Linked DNA regions of Homo sapiens: region 2 is linked to region 1. Evidence: fine-mapped expression QTL. A gene starts in region 1. The other region holds a variant in brackets. All regions are shown on one strand. Distances are from middle to middle.

The links. PIP is the estimated chance that this variant, and not a neighbour inherited with it, causes the effect.
Region 2: its variant is the best candidate, but not a certain one, in a credible set for the expression of PNPLA3 in blood mononuclear cells (TOPMed, PIP 0.62).

The regions. Positions count from the first base shown.
Region 1 is chr22:43,921,029-43,926,349 of GRCh38, reverse strand. It overlaps PNPLA3 (patatin like domain 3, 1-acylglycerol-3-phosphate O-acyltransferase), which reads right to left and starts at 2,545. Exons shown (of 9, transcript NM_025225.3): 1 at 2,252-2,545. The coding sequence starts at 2,438. RefSeq lists enhancers at 1,243-1,985, 1,986-2,730, 4,147-4,647.
Region 2 is chr22:43,952,937-43,958,262 of GRCh38, reverse strand. SAMM50 (SAMM50 sorting and assembly machinery component) reads right to left here and starts at 2,821. Exons shown (of 15, transcript NM_015380.5): 1 at 2,665-2,821. The coding sequence starts at 2,685. It also overlaps the pseudogene RPL35AP36. RefSeq lists enhancers at 2,077-2,286, 2,092-2,843, 2,967-3,046, 3,127-3,176, 2,844-3,596 and a silencer at 2,729-3,003. The variant A/G (reference allele first, on the strand shown) is at 2,792.

The DNA of each region.
Region 1 (5,321 bases):
TGCACTCTCCTGGCATGCAAGACCACCCCTCCCAGCCCAACCCCTGGCCAGCCATAAATCTTGGGATGCACAGGGACAGGCAGGCCCCAGCCTGTCCTGACCCAAATCTGATCTTGACTCACAGCTCTCCTTCCCTGAGTGGCCAGAGGGGTGGAATTGCACGTGGCTGGCAGGTTCTGCCTGTCCCTCCTGCCAAGTTAGCCTCAGCTCAGATGCACTGAGGTGCTGTGTCCAGGATGCAGCCTCTGGGACATGCTCAGCAGCCCCCAAGTGCACAGCCCTCTGTGAGACAGGGGGTTAAAGCAGGAACCTGGAGCCCTGGAACCCAGGGAGTGGCTCCTGCCAACGCCTCCAGATCCACCTTCCAGGGACTTGGTGGTTCCTGAGCCTCCCTGTGTCCTGCCTGGGAAAGCCCCAGGCTGCACCTGTCCTCTGCCCAGTAAGGAATCCTTTCTATACCAGAGTGAGTGTACTTTAGGCTCCTGGGACCTCTGCATTTGAATTCTGTCCCAGTGTAAACATTTGTCCATGTGGGTGTCCACAGGCCACCTTGGGATACAAAAAAGCTGACTTTTATTGTTGCTAAACCCCAGGGTGTGCAAATGATCATGTGGCGGTCTAATCCTCCTGGAGGCCACATTTCGTGCCCTTTGCTCCTCTCCCCCTGGCTTAGGGGAAGGCAGACAGCCAGGACTGTCTAATCCCTAATCCCCACCTCCCAGTCAGCCCAGGGGCTGCCCACTGCTCCTACCCAATGGCAGGGCTTCCTCTGCCCGCTTCCTCACCACTGAACAGTCACTCCCTGCTGGCTCTGGCAGGCAGGGCAAAGAGTCCATTGTTAAGGAAGCCCAGATAAAAGGGGGCTAATGGGGGCATAATCTCCTGCCTGGGGACGTCTGGGTGTCAATAGCTTCACAATGCTACTTGCCCCAGCCCCTGCCTACTGGCTCACAACCCCCTCCTCGCCTCCAGGACTGTGGCACACAAATTCCCAGGAAGCATACCACACCCCAGTAGTTCCAGCTAGTGAGAAACAAACCCTCCGTCTGCACCCCCACCACACACACACAGGTACCCACATGGACAAATATTTCATTAGGACAAGATTCAAATGTACGGAATCTCATTTCCAGGAGTACTGAGCCGGAGAGGGGAGGGTGGGCCTAGGTCAGTGGAAACTAGAGAAGAGGATGGGATTGGGGGGTGTCCAGGGATGCACTCCAGCCCCCAGGAAGGGTCCCAAACACTGGAGGAGGAGGAGGAGGAGGAAACAACTTTCCTCTTTCAAGGTACCCCTCCCCACTAGACTCCAGTTAGCCTGCCCTGGAGGATGCCCAGGGTTGCCCTTCTGGGAGGCTACCCAGCCCCCAGAAGGCTGGGCTGCGACCCAGAGAGCGTAGGCAGCAGGGAGCAGTGGCTCACGCCTGTAACCCCAGCATTCTGGGAGGCCGAGGTGGGCAGATCACGAGGTCAGGAGATCGAGACCATCCTGGCTAACACGGTGAAACCCCGTCTCTACTAAAAAATACAAAAAATTAGCCGGGCTTGGTGGCTGGCGCCTGTAGTCCCAGCTACTCGGGAGGCTGAGGCAGGAGAATGGCGTGAACCTGGGAGGTGGAGCTTGCAGTGAGTTGAGATCACGCCACTGCACTCCAGCCTGGGCGACTGAGCGAAACTCCGTCTCAAAAAAAAAAAAAGAAAAAAAGAAAAGAAAAGCGCAGGCGCGGGGTGTCTTGAGTCCCTCAATCCCCAGAGGGAAGGAGCCCACCGTGGGGGACCGGCCAAAGCCCCACTCTTTGTCCGGCCCAGGGCAAATCGGCCCCTCGGCAGCTCAGCCCGTCCAGCCCCTCCCGAGAGGACACAGGGGACCCGGAGTCCGCAGGGGCCAGCACTACCCTCCGCCCCGGGTCCCGCTCCCTACTCCCCGTCGCTCCGAGACGCTCCGACTCTCAGTCCGGAGGTGAGGGTCTCCCTTCATGCACGGGCGCCTGATGGGGGTAGGGGTGGGGACGCACGAGAGTCCCAGGCTTCGGCCCGGACCGCTCGGGGTTCCAACGCCCCCTTCCCGGGCCCAGGAACAGCGCCCCCGCAGGAAGCATCTGCCTCGGAGGGGGCCCTCGGGATGCACCCCGCCGTGTCCGCGTCCGATGCCCGCTCCTCCAGGGCCCCGCGACCCCTGGGGATCCCCCGCTCCCCGGCCTAGGGGGCACCCACTCCGCACGTGGAGCCCGGGCAGCGTCCCCAGACGCACCCAGCGGGATACCGGAGAGGACGCCGACGCAGTGCAACGCCCCGGCCGAAGCGCCGAACAACATGCGCGCGTCGCGGAGGAGGTGCGGGGCGTGCTCGCTCAGGCAGCGGGTCGCCCCGACGTGGTAGAAGCCCAGGAAGCCGCAGCCCGCGAAGGACAAGCTCCAGCCGCGCTCTGCGTCGTACATGGCGGCGGCGGCGGGGCGGGGGCGCGGGTTAGGATCTGGGTCGGGATCGGGAATCGGCTCGGGTCCTGATCCGCAGCAGCTCCGCCCGGCGCCCGCAAGCGCTCTCTACCCTGCCTCAGTGTCTCGGCCAGGGCATTCCCAGCGCGACGTCAGCCCCGCCCCCCTCGGACCATGCAAATGAGCCGGCGGGAGGCCCAATGAGCGGGCAGGACGCCCTCCCGGGCGGGGCTTGGAGGGGGATGGGGGTGGGGACGACGTCTGGCGGGGGATGGGGGCGGGGACCGGGTCTGGGAGGGGGATTGGGGGCGGGGGCTGGGAGGGCGATGGCGGAGGACCTGTGCGGGGGGGTCCAGCCTGGGAGCTCCCCGCAGCGACTCGAGAGAAAGCATTTTTCCAAAACTCCAGCAGACACTGCATGTCCTGGAGAGAAACGGCTTCCTTCTGTTTTCCTTGACATCTGTTAAGTCGGGGGGTGGGAGGGGAGTCGCAGTTGGTGCCCACTTGATCCTTAACATCACTTTAACACTTTATCACGTCCCTTTTGACCCGGGGAGAGCCAGCCTAAAGCAGGCACCACCACCTGAAGAGTCTACTCTCTGCGTTGTTGCAGGCTTTCTGTATGATTGCCTTCAAGTGCTGGGGATTTTTTTCATTGAATGAAAGTAACAGGAAGTGTCCATTTCAAAGTTTCCTTTGTAAGTAAAAAATGTGAATGACGGGTGCTGGGGCTGGGGTCGGGGCCCTGTAGGAACTGGGGAGTGGGGAGTGCTTTGGGAAGCTGAGGCCTGGATGATTCCTGGTCCCTTAGTCCCTTAGTCCGTTCAGGTGCGAAAACAAAACACCTTAAAGCGGAGGGGCTTACAAACAAGAGATTTATTTCTATCTTTTTCCCCCCAGGCTGGAGTGCAATGGCACGATCTTGGCCCACTGCAGCCTCTTCCTCCCGGGTTCAAGGGATTCTCCTGCCTCAGCCTCACGAGTAGCTGGGATTACAAGCATGCGCCACCATGCCTGACTAATTTTTTGTATTTTTAGTAGAGATGGGGTTTCACCATGTTGGCCAGGCTAGTCTAGAACTCCTGACCTCAAGTCATCACCCACCTCAGCCTCCCAAAATGCTGGGATTACAGGGGTGAGCCACTTCGCCTGGCTTATTTCTCTGTCTCACAGTTCTGGAGGCTGGAAAGCCCAAGTTCAAGATACCAGCAGATTTGGTCCCTGGTGAGAGGTATGGCTCGTAGAAGGTGCCATCTTGCCACATCCTCACCTCTGGGCCTCTTTGATAAGGGCACCAATCCCATTCATAAGGGTGCCACCCTCTCATCAAATCACCTTCCAAAGGCCCCCGCCTCCAAAGATCATCACCTTAAGGTGTAGGATTTCAACAGATGACCTTTAGTGGGGACACAAACATTTGGATAGTAGCATGCCCTTAGGAGATGCCTAAGAGGCCCCTTGACCTTGACCTACCCCTGGCACTGGGTGGAGCAAGCCCACAGCAGTACATGGAGCCAAGTTAGACCTTGGTCCAGAGCTCCTCACTGGAGGACCCTGGTCTGCCGGGCCATAGCGCCCCCAGCTGGAGTGGACCAGGAAGCCCTCCCCCTTCTCCGTGAGACCTGGAGGAATGCAGAGTATGTGAGCTTTGGGGTCAGGCCTCTGCCCTCTTTGTGGCTCAGTGTCCTCAACTGCAGAATGACTGGTGGTGTTGTAAAACAGGTGACATTGCTGTCAGGATTCCAAATGTCACCTGAGAAGCACCTGGATTGGTTGGGTGGTTCATGTTCAACTGAGCTTCCCCATTCTGCTGCAGTCCTTGCTTTTGCCTTGCCTGGAGGGGTAGGGGAGCTGGGAGCAGGGCTGCCTCCTTTCTCTGGGCAGGAATCCCAGGGCATGGGAGCTTCAGGCCTTAGTGAATACCTGGGCTGACTGCCTCATCACATAGACACTTTGTAGATGGAGGCCCAGAGCAAGGCAGGGTCAGGTCCTAAGTCCCGGGGAAGGTCAGGAGAGCTGAGAAGCAGACAGGGGGTCCCATCTATTCCTGACGTGTTGGCTTTGCTGGAGAGGGGCATTACCTACAGTCCTGCCCTAACTGCCCTCCACCCCCACCTCACGCTCAGGGCTGCGGCGGAACTGAGGCTTCTGGAGGGGACAGCTGGGGTCAGAACCTCTAGCCTCCTGTACCCATCCATCCCTCCTGCATTGCATGACCAGTCTTAGGACTAATGACAGGAGGGCCAGGCTCTGGCACAGGAATTTGAGGCTGTGACCGAAGGCCCGAGATGAGTCACCCTGCCACCAGCCACAGGCATTCATATTCTCTTCCTGTCCACCGGCATTCATTCTTGGCCAGCCACACTGGACATCTGTCATCCCCAGTGTGACCCAGATGTGGGCAGGACAGGAGCAGGGCTGAGGACTCACCCCCTCTTCGTCACTGCATGTAGACAGCAGCTGGGGGCCCTCCCCACTTTCCAGAGACAAAGAGAGGACCCAGCTGGGCAAGGGTTTCATGGTCCAGCTCTCTCAGCCCCCCATCCAGCCTCCAGTGGGACAGGCACATGATATCATGGTTGAGACTGCAAGCTTTGGCATCAGACAGCCAGTGCACAAGACTCGCAAGCATCATTTCATCTCTCAGAGCTTCACTTTTTATATCTGTACCATGGGGGAGAAAACAGTTGTGTGAGGGGCATTGTGAAGTTAAATGTGATGAACAGAAAGCACCCAGCCCAGTGCCTGGCAGTACTGCCCTTATCCCTGATCCCATCTCTCTCTCTCTCTCTCTCAGTCCCTGTCTCTGTGTCTCCCACTCTCACTGCTACGCATAGCCCCATCTGCAACTGGGATCCAGCTCTTGGCTGCCAGCACAGAGTTATA
Region 2 (5,326 bases), 32 kb before region 1:
CAAAACAAGCCAAAATGTAAATGGCACCAAAGGAAATGGCACGGAAAGGCGAAGCCCATCCAAATGCAGGGGATAAAGAACTTTCAGAACGGAGTTCTAAAAGATGGGAATATTTTGATGCTAAAGATGGATGATGGGAGGGGGAATGAAGTGCAATAGTGCGGTCCAAATAAAGCCATCCTCACAGGGCTAACAAGAATTCTGGACAAAGGCCAGGCGTGGTGACTCATGCCTGTAATCTCAGCACTTTGGAAGGCCGAGGCAGGCGGATCACAAGGTCAGGAGATCGAGACCATCCTAGCTAACAGTGAAACCCCGTCTCTACTAATACAAAAAATTAGCCGAACATGGTGGCAGGCGCCTGTGGTCCCAGCTATTCAGGAGGCTGAAGCAGGAGAATGGTGTGAATCTGGGAGGTGGAGCTTGCAGTGAGCCAAGACCGTGCCACTGCACTCCAGCCTGGGCACAGAGCAAGACTCTGTCTCAACAACAACAAAAAAAATTATTCTGGACATCTGGACAGAAATGTAGTTATAATTGGCTGGGCGCAGTGGCTCACACCTGTAATCTCAGCACTTTGGGAGGCCGAGGCGGGATGATCACTTGAGGTCAGGAGTTCAAGACCAGCCTGGCCAACATGATGAAACCCCCGTCTCTACTAAAAATACAAAAATTGGCTGGGTGTGGTGGCGTGCGCCTATAATCCCAGCTACATGGGAGGCTGAGGCAGGAGAATCGCTTGAACCTGGGAGGCGGAGGTTGCAGTGAGTGGAGATTGCACCATTGCACTCCAGCCTGGGCAACACAGTGAGACTCCATCTCAAAAGAAATGTAGTTACAATTAACCATTAATCAAGTTGCCTTTTTTTTTTCAAGAGCACAAATCCACATTGATTTATTGACTTTTCATTAGTTTAAATCCTTGAGGGGTACAGCATTACTCGGATTCTGTGTCCAACAGCCTTAGCAGGAAGATTGCTTCAGAATTTGGCACGAATCATGCCATTGTTTCTGTGGGCCCGAGTTACCTTTCCCCAGATTACTCTGGCTTTGTTTGATTTGCCGCCAGGAGTCACTATGTTGTTCTTTGCTTTGTATACATGAGCCCAAATAGAATTCTGTTTCATCTCGGGCATAAACACCTTCAATTTTAAGAAGAGCTGTGTGCTCCCTTTGGTTCCGGAGACTCCACTTATAGCCAGCAAAAATGGCCTTGGACCACAGCCTTCCAGACATATTTCCTTTCAGAAGTCCTGCTCCCGGCAGGCCGCCACAGGAGCCAAGATGGCAGGAAGAGCTCAGGTTGCACTCTGACCTACTTGCTAGTAACCAAAAGTCACAGATACTATTTGCATCCCCATTGATTTTACAGATAGGATTTCTAAAATTAGAATCATAAGGCTTTTGCTTAAGAGTTGCTTTAGATGTTTTTCAGATCTCGAATTCCAGCAAAACTGATGCTGCCAACCAGTTTGAAGACTCCTCCCCGCAACAGAGGAACGGAATCAGCATGAGAAGTTTCCTCATCTCCCTGTCCCATAACTTCACCCTTCACTCTTCCACCAATCAAGGATCTCCACACTTCAGCAAAAACATGAGGTCCAAACTCCTGAAGGAGATGGATTTGAGGTTTCCTCTCTTTTCCCATCTCCTCGTTCAGCGGCCCTGCAACTGAAACTCTTTCTCTGCTGCAACCCACTGTCTGAGTGTATTGACTTATCGAGCACACTGAGCAACAGACCTATTACAGTTACACAAAGAGATGTCAGAAGAGAAACGGTGTTTGATCTGAATGAAAGACATATAAAGGGAAGTTAAGTCCAATTATCGATGTCAGGCTGCGACTTCTGTGCTAAATTTTTTTGGAAGTTAATGGGGAACTACTGAAAACGTCTATGCAGGTCAAGTGAAGCAATCAAAGTTGCAGTAGAAAAGTAGTGTTGGGGCTGAGACTCAGGAAATCTGAGGTTTTAGGCCATTTGGAACCAGTAACTATGTGACCTTGGAGAAGTAACTCATTATCTGGCCCTTATTTAAGATTAGGATAAACGAGAGGAGTTTGGCAACCAGTACAGTTAGTCAGGCGCCAGGCACCCAAGTATTCACATGCATTGTCTTTTAATTCTCTTTTAAGCCAGGCGAGGTAGGTACTATTACTACCTCCACTTTAAAACAGGAAGTAAGGCAGAGAGCGGTTCCGTCTTTTGCACGGTAGACAGGAGAAAAGAGGACCCCTAGATAGGTTTGAGTTAGAAGACTTCAAAGGATTCTTGTTGCTCTAGGAGCCTACAATGGCTCCAGCAGCGGCTGAGCGGGGAAAGGCTGGAAGTGACCAGTAAAGAGAGAAAACTTAAAATCATGCAAAGAAAGAGCACATTCACTGCGGTCTAAGACATCACAGAAAGTTGGCAAGTCCTTTGGGCCACGGACTCGCCGAGTGACCTTTAGCCAAGTCTCGTCCCTCCTATCAGGTTCCTGCTCGAAGGTCTGCAAGACTCGCTGGCCCGAGGCGACCTCTTTTCGGCCTCCTCCACCCAGCCCGGCACCCTTGGCACCCTCTCTCCCGGTGAACCCTGGGCGCAGCCACGAGAGCGTCTCCCCGCGGCGCCCGTCTGCCCTGCTGGCCCAGAGGCCTCGCAGCCCGCGGGTCGCTGGGCCTCTTACCCGGGCGTGCACAGTCCCCATGGTTCCCTCTCCAGCCGCTGCCTCGCAGAGCTGCCCGGGCGGGACAGAGCGTCTGCTGCTGAGGGCAGAAGGCGGGTCCGCGGTGGCGGAGCTGCAGGTCAAGGCA[A/G]CTCCCACAAACCCCCGGACGCGGAACACTGGGGGCGGCCATGATTCCCCGCCTTCTCCGCGCCCCCTGGCTCGCGATGCCTTCGCTCATTGGTCCTTATGCGCCTGTGACCCGGATGTTCACACGGCCGCGGAGGACGTTCTGACTGCGCAAGCGAAGAGCGTTCACTGACATCCGCGAAGCTGCTGGCGCGTGGACTGTGTGGGGAGGGCGCGTGGGGTGAAGGTGGGTCTGCGAGAGGGTCCGCTGGGAGGCTGGCGTCTGGCGTTGGCGCCTGAAAGAGATCAGACCAGCTGTTGGGTGTCACTCAAGTCCTGCTGCTCTTAGCCCTCCTAGCACCCCCGACCCGAGGGTGCTGTGCTTGTGCCCACGCGCCGGTGAAGCCCCGAGACTCAGCGGGGAGACCCCGGGTCCGGCCACCCCCGAGCTGCAGTAGTCGGGTCTCACCGGCATCTGCTACACAAACCCGGATTGGTGCCCTGGCTCCTTTCGTTCAAGTCATTGGAACCCCCACTCAAAATCGTCAAAATGAAGACGATGGTCGTGTCTCCTTCTTGGGGGTTGGATTAAAAGGGCCTAATGTGAGAGACGGAAAGCAAAGCTCCCGGCACCGGGCCGGGCACACGGTGGGCGCTAGATAATGACCGCTATTCACTCAACTGCAGCCAGTAATTATGGGCGAGGGCCATCTAGGTGCTTGCATGAGAACCAGTCATATCGGTGAAGAAGACGGCCATGGGCTTAGGTTTTGGTGGCAAAACAGCTCCCCTGCCCCAAAAAAGAAAAGAGAATAGAAAAGAAAAAGGCATAATAAATATCAGCCACACATTGTGATAAGTATATTGAAAGAAACGAGACAGAATAAGAAAAGAGGAAGCTTCAGTATCCTGTCACGTTGCCACTCCCTTCTGATAACAGAAGCATCTTTTCTTCTGTCCCCTTACTCCCTCCCAGAAACCCTGACACCCTTTCCATTTAAATAGCAGCACCCTAGGCCTCCAACATCCCTGAGCTAAATATTCAAGTCCACATGTCCCTTCTTGCCTGGAAAGAGACAGAACCCAGCACCAGCCAGGCCCCTGCCCTTCCCTCACTCTCAGTTCCCTGAGCCTCAATTCCTTATCTGTAAAATGGAAATGATAGCCTAAGGCATAAGGTCTGAGGACCTCATGAGATCAAGCATGGGGCCTGGCACTCTGTAAACATCGAATCAACCAGATTTTCTTTGCCCAAACAGCCCTCTTTTCTTACACTTTCTTCCTCGTTATTCTTCTGAGTATGCCACTTGTAAAGGATAAGCCATGAGGTTGCCCTGCAGAGTGCAAGATGGTTGCAATATTTGAGAGCCTATTGTGTGTGAGGCCCTGGAGGATGGCAGAGGGAACAGGAGGAAAACAAAGTCACATGCTTTACCCTCAAACAAAGGGCTGTCTGCGATAGTTACAATGTATATATTAAAGGCTATCTGTGATAGTTACAATGTATATAATATATTAAAGGCTGTCTGTGGTAGTTAACAATGTGTATATTAAAGGCTGTGATAGTTACAATGGGTATACTATATTAAAGGCGGTGGTAGTTACAATGTATATAATATATTAAAGGCTGTGATAGTTACAATGTACATAATATATTAAAGGCTGTGATAGTTATAATGTATATATTAAAGGCTGTCTGTGATGGTTATAATGTATATAATATATTGAAGGCTGTCTGTGATGGTTATAATGTATATAATATACTGAAGGCTGTCTGTGATAGTTAAGATGTATATATTAAAGGCTGTCTGTGATGGTTACAATGTATATAATAAAGACTGAGAAGTCTCACAGTGCATATACTGGTTTCCTTCTCTTTAACCCAGTATTTCTTGAATTTATTGGGTCATAGAGATTTTTGGTTTTGGAGATTTTTCTGTGGCCTCTGGCAATGCTATTCAACAGTATTTCTTGTGCTCCTCTTTTGGGCACAAGAGAGGATTGCATCTCCCTGCTCCCATCCATGTGACTTGCTTTGGTCAACACATTGTGAGCAGAAGAGAGATGTGCCACTCTGGATGAGAACCTTTAAGAACCATATTTCTCTAACCATGCCATGGCAATCAGCGATCCCCCAATGGTGGGGCACCTACAGGCTAGGTCTGGGAGTGAGGACGACTTAAAATGAAGCCCAGCCACATTTGCTGGACATACAGCACGAATGAGAAATAAACCTTTTGGGTTTTGCTTGTTAATGCAGCATAACTCAGCCTATCCTATATGATAATACCAGCTAGAAACATCTTCAAGGAAACCAGCATCCCAGAAAACCTGGTTTACAAAGTGCCAATCTTGTCCAATCAGAAGTAGAAGTGCAGTTTAGTGACTAAGCTAGTTTCCTTAATACAATCCAGGCTGAGTGCAATGGCTCATACCTATAATCTCAGCACTTTGGGAGGCCGAGGCAGGAGGATTGCTTGAGCCCAGGAGTTCAAGATCAGCCTAGGAAACACACCCCATCACTACAAAATAAAAATAAAAAATAAAAAAAATAGCT